Regions from separate parts of the Homo sapiens genome. Here region 1 is linked to region 2. Evidence: fine-mapped expression QTL. Tissue or cell type: skeletal muscle. Region 2 holds a variant in brackets; the other region holds the start of a gene. All regions are shown on one strand. Distances are from middle to middle.

The links. PIP is the estimated chance that this variant, and not a neighbour inherited with it, causes the effect.
Region 1: it holds the start of FNDC3A, and the variant in region 2 is fine-mapped to the expression of FNDC3A in skeletal muscle (FUSION, PIP 0.95).

What each region holds. Positions count from the first base shown.
Region 1 is chr13:48,970,905-48,979,011 of GRCh38, reverse strand. It overlaps FNDC3A (fibronectin type III domain containing 3A), which reads right to left and starts at 3,100. Exons shown (of 26, transcript NM_001079673.2): 1 at 2,835-3,100. RefSeq lists enhancers at 2,066-2,165, 2,326-2,945, 2,836-3,135, 2,946-3,565, 3,836-3,895 and silencers at 2,306-2,785, 3,116-3,385.
Region 2 is chr13:49,108,020-49,116,126 of GRCh38, reverse strand. FNDC3A (fibronectin type III domain containing 3A) reads right to left here. Exons shown (of 26, transcript NM_001079673.2): 4 at 1,396-1,472. Among named protein-coding and RNA genes, the nearest start is that of MLNR, 110 kb to the left of the region's middle. RefSeq lists enhancers at 2,301-2,804, 2,805-3,309. The variant G/TG (reference allele first, on the strand shown) is at 4,402.

The DNA of each region.
Region 1 (8,107 bases), 140 kb after region 2:
CCACAACAGTGGGAAGACAGAAAGGTAAGAATAAAGATATAAAAAGAGACCACTGAATAATTATCTGAAATAAGACCAAAATATTAAGAAAATTATAAAAGCTCACAATACATGTAAAAGTACAAAATTTGCCTTTCAACATTAATGGCCACTAATTTCGTTTTAACAAGTAGTTTTTGACATTCACACATATGGGAGCCATATTTCTTGTTTTGCAATGTGATAAACTGAAGCAGTAAAAGGCTCAATGGAATAAATATGCACCATATTCTAAACCTTCGGAATTACAATATTGTGAGTTTATTTGAAGTCCGCTAGGCAATGCTAAAAACAAAACAAAAAAAACAAAAGCAAACAAAAAAAAACCAGAAACACTAATCACTTAGTTATCTGGCTAATAAAATTGGAAATCATGTGCATATCCCTACACCATTCTCAAAGACACGATCTAGATTCATTTTCATTCAAAAATGCACCAACAATGTTTCAAAAAAAAAACGTTTTTGGTTACTTCATCAAATTGTATTTTAAAAATACTGGCAGATTATAAAATACACAAGCCTTGGATGTCATGAACATCTTAAAAAATGCAAATGTTTTAAAACAGCGCAAATATTACTAAAAATTGATAAAGTATAAATTAAATGCTCTTTGCCTAAAACTACAAAAGACAATGAGAATATGAATCATGCATTCCCTCTTTTTTTCGGGGGGTTAAGGATGTCTCAGCCCTTAGCTATGTCTGGCTGGTCAGGGAAGAGGGAGAAATTTTTAAATTAGTAATAAAATATGCTTACTATTATATTGTAGAAATGTGACTAGTAAAGAGTAATCATTACATGTGTGTTAAAATAAATCAGGTCTCAATTACTCACACAGATAGAGGAAGTGAAGACACAGACGTCACCAAAAGAAGATAATCCTAGAATGTTTTTTTTAATGCTTATTATTAATTTGGGATAAATTAATTACCCTTATAACTATGCTTGACAGTGTTAACCAGGATTTTATTTTTCCGGAGCATTCAATGATTTGGAGGATTCAGACAAAAGGGAAAAAGAGGGAGTTAATTCAGAAGCATACAGGTGGCTAACGGTAGCCAGCCTGGGATAAAAAATTTTCCAGTTAACCTACACATAGAAAACTAACAGATGATCTATGAAATGAAACAAGACAATATAGTAAAATTTAATGTAGTAGTGCTAAAAAATTTAAATATAAGATTTAATATTAAAATTTTAACAAGATGTTTCTCCTGTCATCATCCCTTCTTCCCACTAACTGGTGTGATTAGAAAGCAAGATTAGTAGGCTACAAAGCTAAAAGCAACATTTCAGGTTATATTTCATAAAAGATGTGGTAAAAATCCTTCATCACTGTTTTCTGTTGGGCCACCATCTGTCTCAGTGAGTACTTCATCTCATTACTTAAGAAAAATTAATTCAACCAAGAAAATATCCAAAAGACAGGGGATTCAACTCACTTGAACATTTGTGGGTGACACAAGATGACAAGAGTTAGTAAATACGCAAAAACTAAATATTTATCCAAACATAAGATCAGAACCACAAAACTCAATTCGTTTCTGCCTAACATATGGCTCAAACTCCTGAGTGGCGTATGTTTAGTACTGGAGCTGGTAACAGCATGGTGATAAAATATTATAGTAAGAGTTCAACTGTTATTTCATTCCTACAATACAGAAGCATACACACTTTGGTTTCAAGAACTAAAAAACACAGACCACAGTAAGAAGCAAAATAATTACGTTGTTCGGTTTTAAAAACCCATAGTGAACACATAATGATTATACCGCAAAAAGAAAAAAAAAATCTCATCAGCCTGCGACTCTTATTTAATAGATGGTCAGACACAAAGGTGTCCAAAGGAACTTACGTAAAATCTCACAAAAGAAAATCTCGAATTCACAATCTCTAGCACCCCCAGCAAATCATCGCATTCCACCCTCTAAAATATCCCAAGGCTTGTAACGCTAACAGTTGAATAAAAGAACAATTAACGACCACATCCATTAAAACAGTCCCTCTTCTGCTCGCAATCTGACAGCGAAATTATCTGTTCATTTTCCTTTACCTAACACATGACGTCGTTTCCAAAGCCGTGTCAAAAGTTCGAAGATCCAGGTTGTTAAAACCGGGCGAGGACTGCAGCCTCGAGTCCACCTCCCGACTGAACAGGTGGTTAACTCGCCCGGGGAGAGGAACTGCCAGGTACTGGAAGCAGCCACGCAGGATCAAACAGAGGGCGGGTTTTCGAGGTTTTAACCCCAAGATGAGCGGGGAAAACTCTCTTCAGAAAAGCGTTCAAGTTCGGCGGCTGCCGGGCGGCCAAAGCCGAAGGCGCCGCGGGTGCTGGGCGATCCTCTCAGGAGGATTCCGCCCCAGCCCCCGCCCCCGCCCCCGCCCCCGAGCCCTCCGGAGCTACGCGGCTCGCCGCGGGGAGGAGGCGGGGGACAGAGAGAAGGGCCGCCCGCGCACCAGCGCCACCTCCCTCGGGCTAGATGCCGCCTCCTCTTGGGCTGGATGGCGCCCCCGGCCGCGCCCCCGCAAGCGTGTCCTGGCTAGGCTCGGCCCCGGCAGGTGCCCGACTAGTAGACCGGTCCTGTCCCCGGCCCCACTGCCCCTCTGCACCTCTGCCCACAGCGCGCCCACAGAAGGGGGTGGTCCGCGCCCCTCGACGGGGCCGAGCCCTGGAGAGTGCCCCGGCCCTCAGTCCCAGCCTAACGGTTTCCGCGGCGCCTCCTCCGGGGCGGGACGGGGTTGGGACGGCTCGGTGTCCCCCGCCTTTCGCGGAGGGAGTGCCCGCGCTCTCACCTCCGAGTCACGCCGTTCTGAGGCAGAAGGCGGCTCCTCTGGCGCCTCTTCTTAGGGTTCCTGATCGTTGTCTCTCTACCTCAGCTGCAGAGTCAGCTCTCAGGGCCGCCGCGGCCGCCGGCGCGCTGACTGTTGGGGTTGTTTCCTGGCAGTGACGCCGCCGCCTCAGCCCCGCTCTTCGCTCCCTCTCCGCGTAGCTCCCGCTTTCTGTTTCACCCGAGGGACCACGAACGCCGCCGCCGCCATGCTTACTACGGAGCCGGGAGGAGGAGCCCGAAGTCGGCGCGCCGAGTGCGGCTGCGCGGGCCCCGCCGACGGAGCCCGCGGCCGGGACCCCGAACCCCCGCCTCGAGCCCGCCGCGCCGGGGCTCTCTCACCGGAACGCGAGTCCCCGCGGGGCCACCGGCGCGTGGCGGCTGAGCGGCCGCGTTTGGCTCCCGGAGCGCCCACACCCTCTCGGGCTTCCGGCTTTCTCCCGAGGCCCGGCTGCGCCTGGCTTGTGGTAGCATCCGCTGTGGCCAGGCTCGGAGCTACACTCAGGAAAAGTGGAGTTAATGGAGGTTCCTAGAGACACTCACACAATTCTCAATCCACATTTCAAAAGGCTCCCCTGAGACGCACCCTGTCGGCCCCTTTCCGAAAGCACGCGAACTTAAGGCTGGCAGGTGCTTTAAAAGACACTCCTCCCAAGGACTAGGAAGCCTCTGAAATGGGCTTGGAAGTTTCTAATCCCAAAGACTTCGAACCCAGGATCTGGATAGCAAGCAAAAATATTTAGATATTTACTCAGTTGAAAACGTGGGGGGTGGCTTCGTGGTCTCTTCGCCAGCCAAATCGCGTGGAAAACCACGACCTCAATTTTTACAACAGCACGAAGACTTACAAGTGAGCGTAGCAGCGACTTCCTGGAACCTCAAACAATGTGGGACGCTGCAATAATGCCTGAGGGCTTTTGACTTACAGTTGCCGCCGGAGACCTGGGGAGGGGGTAGTACTTGGGCCGGTGAGTCCAGCCTCAGGAACTGTCCTTTCAAAAATGGTGATGGATGTAACAAGTTGCATGTCTGGGCTTTATTTCAGTGTATTAATTGTGCGATCTTTTAAAATAGCTGTATTTTTAAAACTGTTTTACAGAAATCTCTTTAAAATGTGATTATTCTCTATATTCTTAAAGAATACAATGGCTAATTAAATCCTTTGTTGATAACTGACTCTCAAACCGATATCTTGGCCATACGTTTAAGTCCCAGAGGATTGCTGCGGTGTATAGAATCCCTACTTTGGTGCTCTCTTTTTTTCCCTCTTTGGAATGTTCTCATCACCTCTTCTAAAATCCTTCACTGCTTTTCATCTCCTCATCTGCCTCTATCCACTCTGATCCTTCCTCTTATTCTTTCTGCTTTACTGTTTATTTTTCATTCTTCTCTCCTTTCTCGGCTGGTTTTCTCTGCGGCTCCAGGTGAAGATTGATGGGATGTTTATGTCCACAGCCAGCTAATGAGAGGTTTCTTTTCTTCTGGTTGTAAATAGGGCAGTGGTATCTTGAGATATTTTCATTGCTCTTCACTATCAGAAGTTCTTTCCCTGTGAGAGATGTTTCCTTTTCTTAACTTTTGGATTTGGCCCTCTTCGAGACAGCTGGCAAGTTGATCTTGGAATAATTGAAGTATAACTGTATATTGTTTCAAAGTATGAGGATTTTATCAGAGTGTGGGCGAATGGGGTGGCTTCCCCATCTTACTGCCCAACTATGCTTGGTCTGAGACTAAGATAGTGGTTTCCAAACTTACCGCTAAGCTAATACTTTCCTACTCTGCTTCCTACTCAGGAGCTTTTTGAAAATACAGAATCCTGCAATCTACCCCCTCAAGATTCTGATTCCTTTGTCCAGGGAGAGGCCAAGACATGGCACTTTTAAAAACTATATTTAAAAAAATATGTTTGGGACATGCCTACATGTAAAGGCAGAGTAAAGAAGATCAGCTGTTTTTGAAGGAGATTAACACATAATTTAAGAATGTTATTGAAGACCTAGAGATTGTAGTCAATAATATGCAATGCAGTAAGGTGAAGTAAAGTGAAGACCAAGGAATTTATGGCCTTTGGAGAGAAGAAAACCCACACATAAATGACCCTAGCATGTGCACCAGTATGAGTTCTCTGGGAACAGAGAGAGGGTCAAGAAATTATGTTGGCTTTGAACAAGTTCTCTTCTCAATGCTTCACTTTTTTTTTATCAATAAAATGGGAGCCATTTTCAATCCTCATCTTTCTTGGCCTCTCAACAATACTCAACACTTTGACCACTATTCTTTCTTAAACATTTCTTCTTCCTTTGACACTGCATTTTCTTGGTTTTCCTCCTTAGTTTCCTAGGCACTGCTTCTCTGATTCCTTTGCATATTCCTGCTGGTCTCCCTAACTATTAAATATAACAGTACCTTAAAATTCAGTTTTAGATTCTTTTCTGTTTTCATTGTAATCTCTTGGCCTAAGCAGCATCACCCACGCCAATGGCTTTAGTTATCATCTATATGCCAGTGATCTCCACATATATGCCTCCAGCCCAGACCTTTCCTCTAAATTCCAAATCTGATCCACTAGTCAAAGTTTGACCCTACCTCTAAATTCCAAGCTTCACTGACATGGCCACTTAATATCTCAAAGTTGCAAAGTTTAGTCCAACTGAGTTCATGAACACTTGTTTTCCTTATCCCCCATCTCTCTAGTTATTCAAATCAAATATCTAGTAGTCAGTAACCGCTGATGTCTCCCTCACCTCCATTCTTCCATTCTCCATATTTGTTGCAGCACTAACTCCTGGCAATTTTATTTCTAAAATCTAATTGGTCTACTTCTTTCCAATCACCACCAATCTAATTCGATCTCACTGTATACAATCTGGGATCCTCCATTCAGTCTCCATTTTGCAGCCAAAATTATCCTCTAAGAAAGCAAATGAGACTATGTCACTACTCCAAAAATCTCCTTAAACAGTTTCTCATTGCTTTAGGATAAGTCTAGAATTCTTAAGGCAGCCTAAAAGACCATACGAGGTCTGGCCTTACCTGCCTTTTCCAGCCTCATCTCACACCATTTTCACCTTGTTTCCTGGGCAGACTTCCTGGTCTTCTTTTAGTTTCTCAAAAATGCTATGATCCCAACAACCAAAGGCTCTATGTACATGCCATTCTCTCCTTTAGTTATCCTATCTCTTACTCATCCTTCAGGTCTCAGCTTGAAAGCGACATCCTTGGGAAAAACATTTCTGACCTCCCAGATACATTCAAGATACCTTGTTATGTCAGCTCTCTTACCACCATATACCCTCCCCTCTTATGACTTACCACAGCTTGTAACTACATTTTGGTATGTGTAACTACTAGGTTAATGTCTGTTGCTCCCCACATTAGGATAAAGACCATGTCTATTTGGGCCTGCACAGTGCCTGGCACATAGAAGCTACCCAATAAATATTTCTTGAATGATTATTGTCCTATGAGTTTATTTCTGGGATTCTAGAAGGTTGTTAGATCGGGAAATTAGATCACTGATCATTTTCAAGAGAGCAATCTTCTGTATGACTAGTGGGAAGAAATGCAGAAATGTGCTGGAAGACAATTCTCTGTGGGACTCTAGTATTTCTGCATGTCTTGTGAGCAGAGGCACTAACAGCTTTTGTTTTAGACTATATTTTCAAGGATTTTTTTTTTTTTTTGGTCAAACTGCCTTGGAAAATATACATAGTGTCCCCTGCCCTGCTCCCCCTCCCCGCCAAGAGCAGGGGCACATTTGTTTACCATCCAATATAGTGAAGATAATGTCTTTGGAGGTAAAGGTCAAGCAGGTTTTCTTGCAGCCTATTATAAAAAGATTGGGGATTTCCTAAGCTTAGATAGAGTTTCTCAGCTGTGAGGCAAACCCACTGCAGGTGCATCACTCACCTGAACCACACCATGTAGCTCCAGGTAAGACCTGGGGGCAAGGGAACTGACTGAACATGACACTGGCGCTGCTTGCTGTGCCATGAGTAATACAGCCCTTTGACTGCAAAGCCCCACGTCTTCTGCCAGCTTCCATGAAACTATAGCAGGTTAAGTGATTAGCTTGCAAGGAGGATGAAATCTCAGACCTTTCATAGTTCTTGACAAAGTACAGTGGGTTAAAGAGAAAGACGAAGATGAAGAAGTCAAACAGCAAGTGGAGACTATTTAGAAAGTTTGGAAAAAAAAGTTTGGTGATGAAGAGGAGAGATGGGACAGCAGATTGAGGTGGGAGGGGTGTGCTGACTGAATTCTCTGAACAATATTGGTGGCCTTAACTCTGAACAGATCCCGACAGAACACTATTGCTGTTGTTCCTCTCTTTGGTTAGGGAACAGGTGCAAATCTGAAAGAGGAGAAGGAGATGGAAGTGGTTGACCTGGAGGTACACCAGTTAAAGCAGCCAGAGCTTTTTTTTTTTTAATCTCTGAGAAGGGGTGTAGTATAATGTGGAGCAGGAAAGACAGGCTTTGGAGTCAGGTAGATCTGGGCTTCAGTCGCAGCTCTATTACTAACTGATTGATTGATCGATCTTAGGCTTGTTATCCAACCTTTCTGGCTTCAGTTCCTCAACTATAAACTAAGGATAAAATACCTACTTTGCAGGATTAAATTTCATAATGTATGAAGATGCCTGGTATATGCTTGATGCTCAATAAATAAATGTGAGCTACATGATTAGGATGTCCTGGCTAATTGTGATTTGGTGAGGTTGGGAAAATCCAGAACCTTCCTCCACATTTCCAAGGATTCTTGGAAAGGAACTTGGCCAGGGTGCACACTTGCTCTGATCCTGTTCCCGTTTCCATCCCACTCTGTGCTTTCCTATGGATGGAACAGCTCCTTCCCTAAAAGCAAAGGAAACAAGACACAGAATAGGAAGCGACTTCACATTTAATGTTGGCCATTCCCACCACAGGGAATTTCTCAGTAGCCATCATTCTTTTCGGATCACACCCTGCCACTATATTGCTGTGGGCCCCTCACCCTAACAAGAACCTTCTCTACATTTTTCTGAATTTCTGGGACTCCTAAAGCCACCTCTCTTTAAAACCACCAGGGGTGGGCCAAGCGCAGTGGCTCATACCTGTAATCCCAGCACTTTGGGAGGCCAAGGTGGGCAGATCATGAGGTCAGGAGTTTGAGACCAGCCTGACCAACATGGAGAAACTCTGTCTCTACTAAAAATACAAAAATTAGCCAGGCGTGGTGGCGCATGCCTGTAATGCC
Region 2 (8,107 bases):
AACAGCAGATAACCTAAGTGCACTGAAAGAACTTGTCTTAATCATCTTTTTATCACTAGCTCCCAATACAGAGCTCAGTACGTGGTGCCACTCAATAAATCATGAACTGAACTATGCTAGAGAACAGTCTTCATGTAAGAGAAGGAAGATCTGAGAAGGTGCAACAAAGAAGTAGAAAACAAAAATCAGGGCAGCATGATGTCAAGGAAATCTGTAGTAAATCTTATCAGTGGTACCAAATTTTTAGAGGTCAAAGAGGACCAGGCTGGAAAGCAGGACTTTGGATTTGGTACATAGCGGAAAGCAGTTTTAGTAGAGTAATATAGACAGAATGCAGACTATATTAAGGAGTCAGTGTGCTAAACAAAAGTAGAGATAGTTAGTAGAGACTACTCTGAAAAGCTTACAAGGTAATTTCAGTACGTGATCTCATCTCATAATGAAGGCACTGAGACTGAAGGAAGTTGATTTGCCCAAGACCATGCAGCCAGCAAAGGTTTGAAATAAGATATGGATTCAGCTTTTCTGAATCCATTCTAAATCTCATTCCATTCTCTCCTTCCCAGCACGCTCTTCTTTTGCTGTGGTTCATATGATGGTGTGCTTCACAGAGTGTGCAGAAAATCCACCCCAATATCCCACCACCAATATTCTGGCATAATCAGGGAGGAAGTAACAGAGGGCCTGAAGAAAAACTTCAAGTGTAAATTCAATGCTAGGGAGAGAAAATGATTATTTCCCAAAATAGATTGAGGCAAAGCGTGCAGACCATACGAAATCTCAGTAGTGGAAGATATTGAACACCTGCAGATTTTACAGTTTAATTCAGTTTGCCTGTGTTCATAAATTACTATACTTAAGGTCAGAGCTTCCCAGTCATTATGCATAAAAGGTTACAGGTGTATGGAGATACTGATTTTTTTTTTTTATTTCCCCCCCCCCCTCATCCCTCAGGGTTGCTAAACTCTTTTCTATTGAACACAATATGCCATGCAATTATCAACAGTGTCTGAGATTCATTGTATGAATAAAGTTGGAAGCATTGTCTTGGGTTACATCTAAGCAAATTTCTAAATTTAAAAATGTCAGTGTAGGCACCTTTACAACCTAAAATATTATTTTTATTTAGTCATATATTTAGGGAGACAAAACTCTAGAATGAATTTTCTTTTGTGACTTAACACCCAAAGACAAGGACAAATGATGAGTGCTGCCAATAAAAATTTTTCTTCCTTTCCAAATGTACTAAAATACTTGAAATAGATTTATGATAGATACACAACACTTGGTAAGCCTCAGTAATTAAATGGTTTTTTTAAATCAAAATCAAAGTCAAAGAGAATAACATTATCACTATTATACAAATATGAAAAGAAAAATAGCATAAAAACATACCTGTGGGGCATATCCAGGAGGCACATAGATAGGAGGCACAGAACCATTTGGGGACATCATTGGAACCTGAGCAGGACCTGAATGGGTCACATAAATGATGTATTAACCCATGATTGCTTATCAGGCTAAAGTTGAAAACAATTTGAATTACATTTTGAATACTTCATCTAAACACTCAAGCCAACAGTAACTACATTTTTATAAAAAGAAATTCAGATGATTGACTTGTTATAAAAATTTATCTTGTAAAGTGCACAAATTACCCTTTACCTACATTTGTGTTTTTTAAAGTTGCTGGGGTAGGGGTGGTGGGGGGCGGGGAGGTTGGAGGGCTTTTTAAAACATATTAACAGGCTCTCCTAGAGATTCTTAGTCAATGGGGTCTTGAATCATTATATTCACTTTACAAATATCCCAGGTGACTCTTATAATAGTGTAAGTTTAGAAACACTGACCTAGAGAAAAATCAAACTAAACTCTGCATATAAAATCAATGAAAAATACAAAAGGCAAAATTTTCAAAAGTTACAGGGACAAAATAAAAAAGCAAGAGTGAAAAGCAGCAAGAGGAAGAATAGTTAGAAATTTGGAACTTGCTTTGTTAGGGTTAAAATACTTGTGTAATGTGTGACTCATGTCTATGGGGGCTTAAGAACAAAGAGAAATGCCACACGTGTACTTACCCAAAGGAAAAAAAAATTTTTTTTTGTTTCTCACACTAAAAAGTTCTAAAAAAGAAAATTCAGCTTCTCTCACTCTACACTTCCTTTCACTTTTATAGTGTTAGGTTTTCCAATTAACTTTTATAACTATTATCTCTAGTTTACCTTCTCTTTTAACATTTCTGGGAACAAAAGAAGCATTTGGAGAAGGTGTGTTTTGTTCTTTCTAGGAACTAAAATCTTAGTTGCTTTATGTAACTTTTAAAAAAGTCTCTTACCCCCCTTCAGTTCCTTTCTTCCTGTAACTTTACACTGCAGTGTCCCCTCATGCCCACCAGTTTTTTATAACCTGAAATGAAACCTTTTCAAAGAAATTACTTATTTCTAAGGGAATAAGAACAAAGGTCTGATGAGGAATGTAAAGGGGGAAGGATCTCTTTTATATGCAGAATTATAATCTACCATTATATAATGGCTCTCAGCTATAAAAGAAATAAAGGAGGAAAAGCTCAAATGTAGGGTAGAAAACAAGTAACTCTGTTAATATTATACATACTTCAGAAAATCAGAATAAAGGACATGGAGGTCACAACAAATCCGGATTACAGCCATTCTGCCCTTTCTAGGGAAGGCAAGGGGTGAGGACAGAACCACACAGTGGTGATGAAATTAGGGCTAGGGAGATGAGAGAGCTAGGGAAGAGAAAAGAGAATACAAAAGAAAGGGGGTGTAAGAGGGAAACTACTAAACGGGGTGACGGAAAATACTAAACAGGGGTAAGGAAAGTGGGGAAAGTGGAGGAAAAAAGGGGGAAGCAAGCAAGGAGAGGAGAAAGGCAAGAGGGGAGAGAAGGAGAGAGGCGAGAGGTAAGAGAAGAAAAGGGAGGGATAAGAAAGGGGACAAGAGGCAGTAAAGGAGAGTGAAGAGAAGACAAGAAGGGAGGGAGAGGAGAAAACAGAAGGGTAAGGGGGAGGAGGAACGATGTGGAGAAATAGGAGAAAGGGGGAGGGGAGGGAAAGGACAGAAGAGGTGGGGAGGGGAAGAGAAAGTAGGGATAAGACTGAAGTGGTTGAGAGAAAGTAAGAAGTGTTTGTGTAGAACACTAAATTACACTATATAATATCTGGCTGTGAAAAGAACTTTTCAATAAGATACTCTTCCCATCCAAAACAAGACCACCACCAAATACATGAAGTTGTCCAGAATATTATTTTAATTATATATAGCTAATACTAACTTACTATGTGCCAGGCCTTTTACATATTTTTTCTCCTCATAATCATTCTATCAGGTAAATATCATCATCATCATCATCTCCATTTTCTAGATGTGGAAACTGAGGCACAGAGAGGTTAAGCTCCCCAAGTGGTAGAAGTGGGATTCAAAACCAGGTAGTTTTATTTCTAAGGACATATCCTTACCACATTTTTAGTAAACATTAAAATACTATGCAGTATTGGCAACTGATATAATTTGAGGCTTAAGAACAATGCTCTAAAGCCTCTAAGGAAAATTAAGGCCTTTGTTGTCTTTACATCCGTAAAAACATGAGAGAAAGAATAAAATTTTCTTAAGTTTAAGCAAACATTACCTATTAATTTACTGAATAAAACTTGTGAGCTGCTTTATACCTCTAGGCAGAAAAGCTTCATGCAAAACTCACCTTTTAGCTCCTATATTCTAGACTCAAGAGAAATGAGAACTGTTTTAAACTAATGCTGGTTTACTTCCATTAGCTAATTTATATAAAACTACAGTAAACTAACTTCCTGAATCCTTACAGGTGGCTTAGGTATTACTTACAATATGTGAAATTCAGCTGAGAACTTGACAGAGAATTCACTGAAAATCATATTTTATAATGTTAATAAAGGCCATTAGCATTGCACTTTTACTGTGGGTCCTTTTATATGCTGTCAAATTTAATCCTTACATCAAGTCATCAGAATAGGTTTTTCTTTTGCCATCAGAATAATAAGTTATTGCTAATTACATTTAAAATAGTAAAATCACACAATTGCTTCAAGTGGCCCTCCTTTTACCAGAAATACGAATATATATGTAGTTACAATTCAAACCATTTTATACTTTGATAGCCGCTAAAATAGTTTATAATTTGGTAATACAAGATTCTACTTTGTTTTTTAATTATATCTAAGTGTGATGCTGAAAAGAGAAATGTAAGCTAAAATAAACCAGTAGTAAATATATTACTAGATGTAGTCCAGGAAAAAGACTGATTAACTTACTTCTTTACGAAGTAATCCTTTCACTCTAGCAAAAAAATTTTTTTTTTATCCTGAGGCAGAAATTGTACATGGTTAGATTTTTTTTTTTTTTTTTT[G/TG]AGACGGAGTTTTACTCTGTTGCCCAGGCTGGAGTGCAGTGGCGCTATCTCAGCTCAATGCAACCTCTTCCTCCTGGGTTCAAGTGATTCTTCTGCTTCAGCCTCCCGAGTAGCTGGGATTACATGCATGTGCCACCACGCCCGGCTAATTTTTGTATTTTTAGTAGAGACGGGGTTTCACCATGTTGGCCAGGCTGGTCTTGAACTCCTAACCTCAGGTGATCCACCTGCCTCGGGCTCCCAAAGTGCTAGGATTACAGGTGTGAGCCACCATGCCCGGCCAGATTTTCTTTTAAAAAGACAATTTATCGGTATCATATTTAATGCCTAAAATATTGCTGTGAAGTAACATTCAACACTGAATGCAAACCCCTATTGTATAAACATAATAAATACAAGTATCGATGTTTAGAACTACAACGTTTACAGCATCTCATGTCTGTTGTTACTCCTGTGTCTATAGTAGCGAAACCTTAAAGCCTTGCATATTTAATGATGTAAATGTTTGATTAGCTCCTTAGTTCCAACAATACTTTTTAATTTAGAAAGTAACAGAAAATTAACTACAAACTGACTTAAATTTGTATGCAATGAGGGAGATTTTGTCCCAAGGAAGAAACTCAGATCCTATTGACAAATGTATGCCTGGCACAAGAGTAGCAATACCTGACAACAACTGTGCATACACTTAGCAGCTCCTTTATAATCTATGTGATTTGAGCATGATTTACCCCAATCATGGAGCTATTAAGGATACATTTCCTATTTCAAAAACCTGCAGAAGAGTAAACAATTCTAACCAATTGTCTTAAGAAATTTGAGAAGCTCCCCACCCCTGCTTCTTAAAAAGTGCCATCACTGACTTAAAGAAGATATTTCAACTAGTATAACTTAAATTCTTCTTTATCTTTCCTTGTTAATATACATTCATATTTAAGAGGTTTTTTTTAAATAAAATTACAAATTTGTCCAGGAGTTTTAATTCTTAAAATGCAACGTGCTGCCGCTGTGCTACACATTCTCTATAAGCCAGCGTTCACAATGGCTTCCAAATAATCTGATGCCAATTTTCAGATTTTAGCTCTAGAAGAAAAACCTAGTAAAATAAAGATCCTAGAATGGAATATTCCGTGGAATACAAAATTACAAAATAACTCTACATAGTCTAACCTTTTTGTATTTACATGGCAACAATTTAAAATATTTTATGGCGATGATATTTAGCATCTATTTTTAAAAACACACGGCATGACTTTAGATTAATACAATGCTTTCTGTCTTAAAATAAAAGCAGAATGTTCGAAAACAGCAAATCTTACCACTCATTTCGTTTTTACAGTAGCAGCAGAGAACAAGAAAATCCAACAAGGAAACAGCGTAGTACACGTTAACAGCTTTAATTGGAGAACGGCTTTTTTTTTTTTTGCAAGGCTGTAAGAGGAAAAGATCCTTTGACCGAGTCACGTGACAGTCATCACGTGACCTGCAGTGACCCAGGAAAGGGCAAGGGGGAAAAAAAAGCAAACGTTCCCGCTTGCAGCATTTCTGATATAGGGGAAAAAAAAGATTAAATGATTTCTACTGCTGCTGCCCTGAATTTGACCATCTTTCAGACTTCCTTATGAACCAATTCAAAAGCTCATCAAAGTATACTTTTCAGAAATATATATTTGATGTACAATGATTCTCTTTGTGTTCAATAACACCACAGGTGCTATCTTCTAATTTTTTACTCATGCAGCCTGCCGCTAATTTTCATTTAGAACATTTGAGATAATATTAATTTAAAAGATTCAGTCTGAAATGTCATTGTATAACGTAATTCTCCATACTCAATCCTTAAGGAATATCCACAATACACAAATAATTGTGTATAGAATATAGGTTTGATAGACATGTGTCTCAAAGGTGGGATTTATGTTTCAGGCTGTTATTTGCCTCTTAAGAGAATAAAGACTACCACTTTCATTATTGGTTTTATTTTCTTTCTGATTTTTTTAAATTTAAGATTTAAATTAAAGTGCAGGTGCTCAGTAGATGGCATTCTTACTCATATCCACGAATCTGAAAAGACAGCCTCAGGTGCAGGTTCAGAGTTCTCTATCCAAGAACAAGTAGAGACCAGAAAGGAGACCAAAGATGTCCAGTTACAACAGGAAAGAATAAGAACTTTTGGAGATCTTTCATTACTTTATGGTGCTATGTAACTTCAGAGGAAATTTATTAACAGCTAACAAAAATATACAGGTAATGATAATGACAGTGGTTTGTAACAAGTTGTACAGTGGAAAGAAAGTGAATTTTGGTATTAAAAGATATATTTTAATAACAGCTTCAGTATTTATTAGCAAGGCAATTTACTGCTCTTCTCTGAAGTCTTAGCTTATTTCAGTGACAAGGTTAATCAACATCATAGCATTGTTGTGAGAATGAAATTAAATAAATTTAAAGTATCAAGTATATTGGTTGATGATACTCAGTAAATAGTTATAATATGTAAAAGTATGATCACCATGTTTTCAAAAATAACCACATAGTGCAGAGTACATACTAGGCATCATTTGGAGTGTTTTACTTGCGTTAACTCACTTAATCCTAACAAGTGAAGTGAGCATCATTTCCAGGTAAGAAAACTGAAGCAGAGTAACATGCCAAGGGCACAAAGCGAGGCAAAGGCAGGATTATCTAATAATAAGGCTATACTTTTCAAAAAGTGTAAACTATGTTCAAAGGCCCCATCTCACACAAAGGTGGAAAACAACTGGCAAAGGATAACCTAGAGAAATAGGTCTCAATAAATATATGTAAGACACCCCAGAGGAGATAAGACAGTAAGGGCCTATTCTTACAAGTGGGGAAAGGTAATTGTTAACTTCAAAATTCCTATGAAAAGGCAGGGTTGCCCTGAAAAACGAGACCAAAGGGCAAGGAGTCTCCTGGTCTCAACAGAATGTACTCATATACGTTAGACCCAGCCCCCCTGTAAATCCGACCATGTCTCTGATCTTCAGCCCCTAAACAAAAAGCAAGCCTCTGCAGCCCACCTTCTTATTTTGGCTCACATTTGCACACAGCCTGTATTTCTATTTCTTGACTATTTAACTTATCATCTCCTTTCAATCCTTTCCATTATGCTCACTAGAAAGTTTTTTTCCATTATAAATAAATTCTCCTATATCCTCAACCTTTTTACAGAACACTTGTTCCTGTGTTGCCTTGAAATGAAGCATGGATGTCCTGTAGAAAACTTTCCCCAGCATGCCCCAGGAGCAGAGACTTCCTATCCTCTCCTGAAGCAGTGTTGGTAGTCTGCAGATACTCCAAGGCTGCTTCCCTTCACCACTGTTGTTCCTGTTTCATGCTAAAGTTCCTTCTTCCTTGAGATCACGGCATATGTGCATACAACCCTCTACCCCTTCTCAATGCTTTAAGGCTGAGTCCTCATTTATTGAGAACTTTGGCGCTGTGATCAATTTTGTTCTCTATCCCAACTCTTGTCTATCAGCATGACTTTAATGTCCAAAATCTAGGCTTAAAATTCCTTGAACTCGTGTCTTTCATTCTATTTTTAGTAACCCATGTTCAAAGATACATCCTGGAACTTATTACTTAGAACTCCACTATCTCATCTTTGAAATATCAAACTTTCATGTGGCCATCATATCTTTCTTTCATCTCTCCAGTTCTCTTTCTTCTACATTTGTTC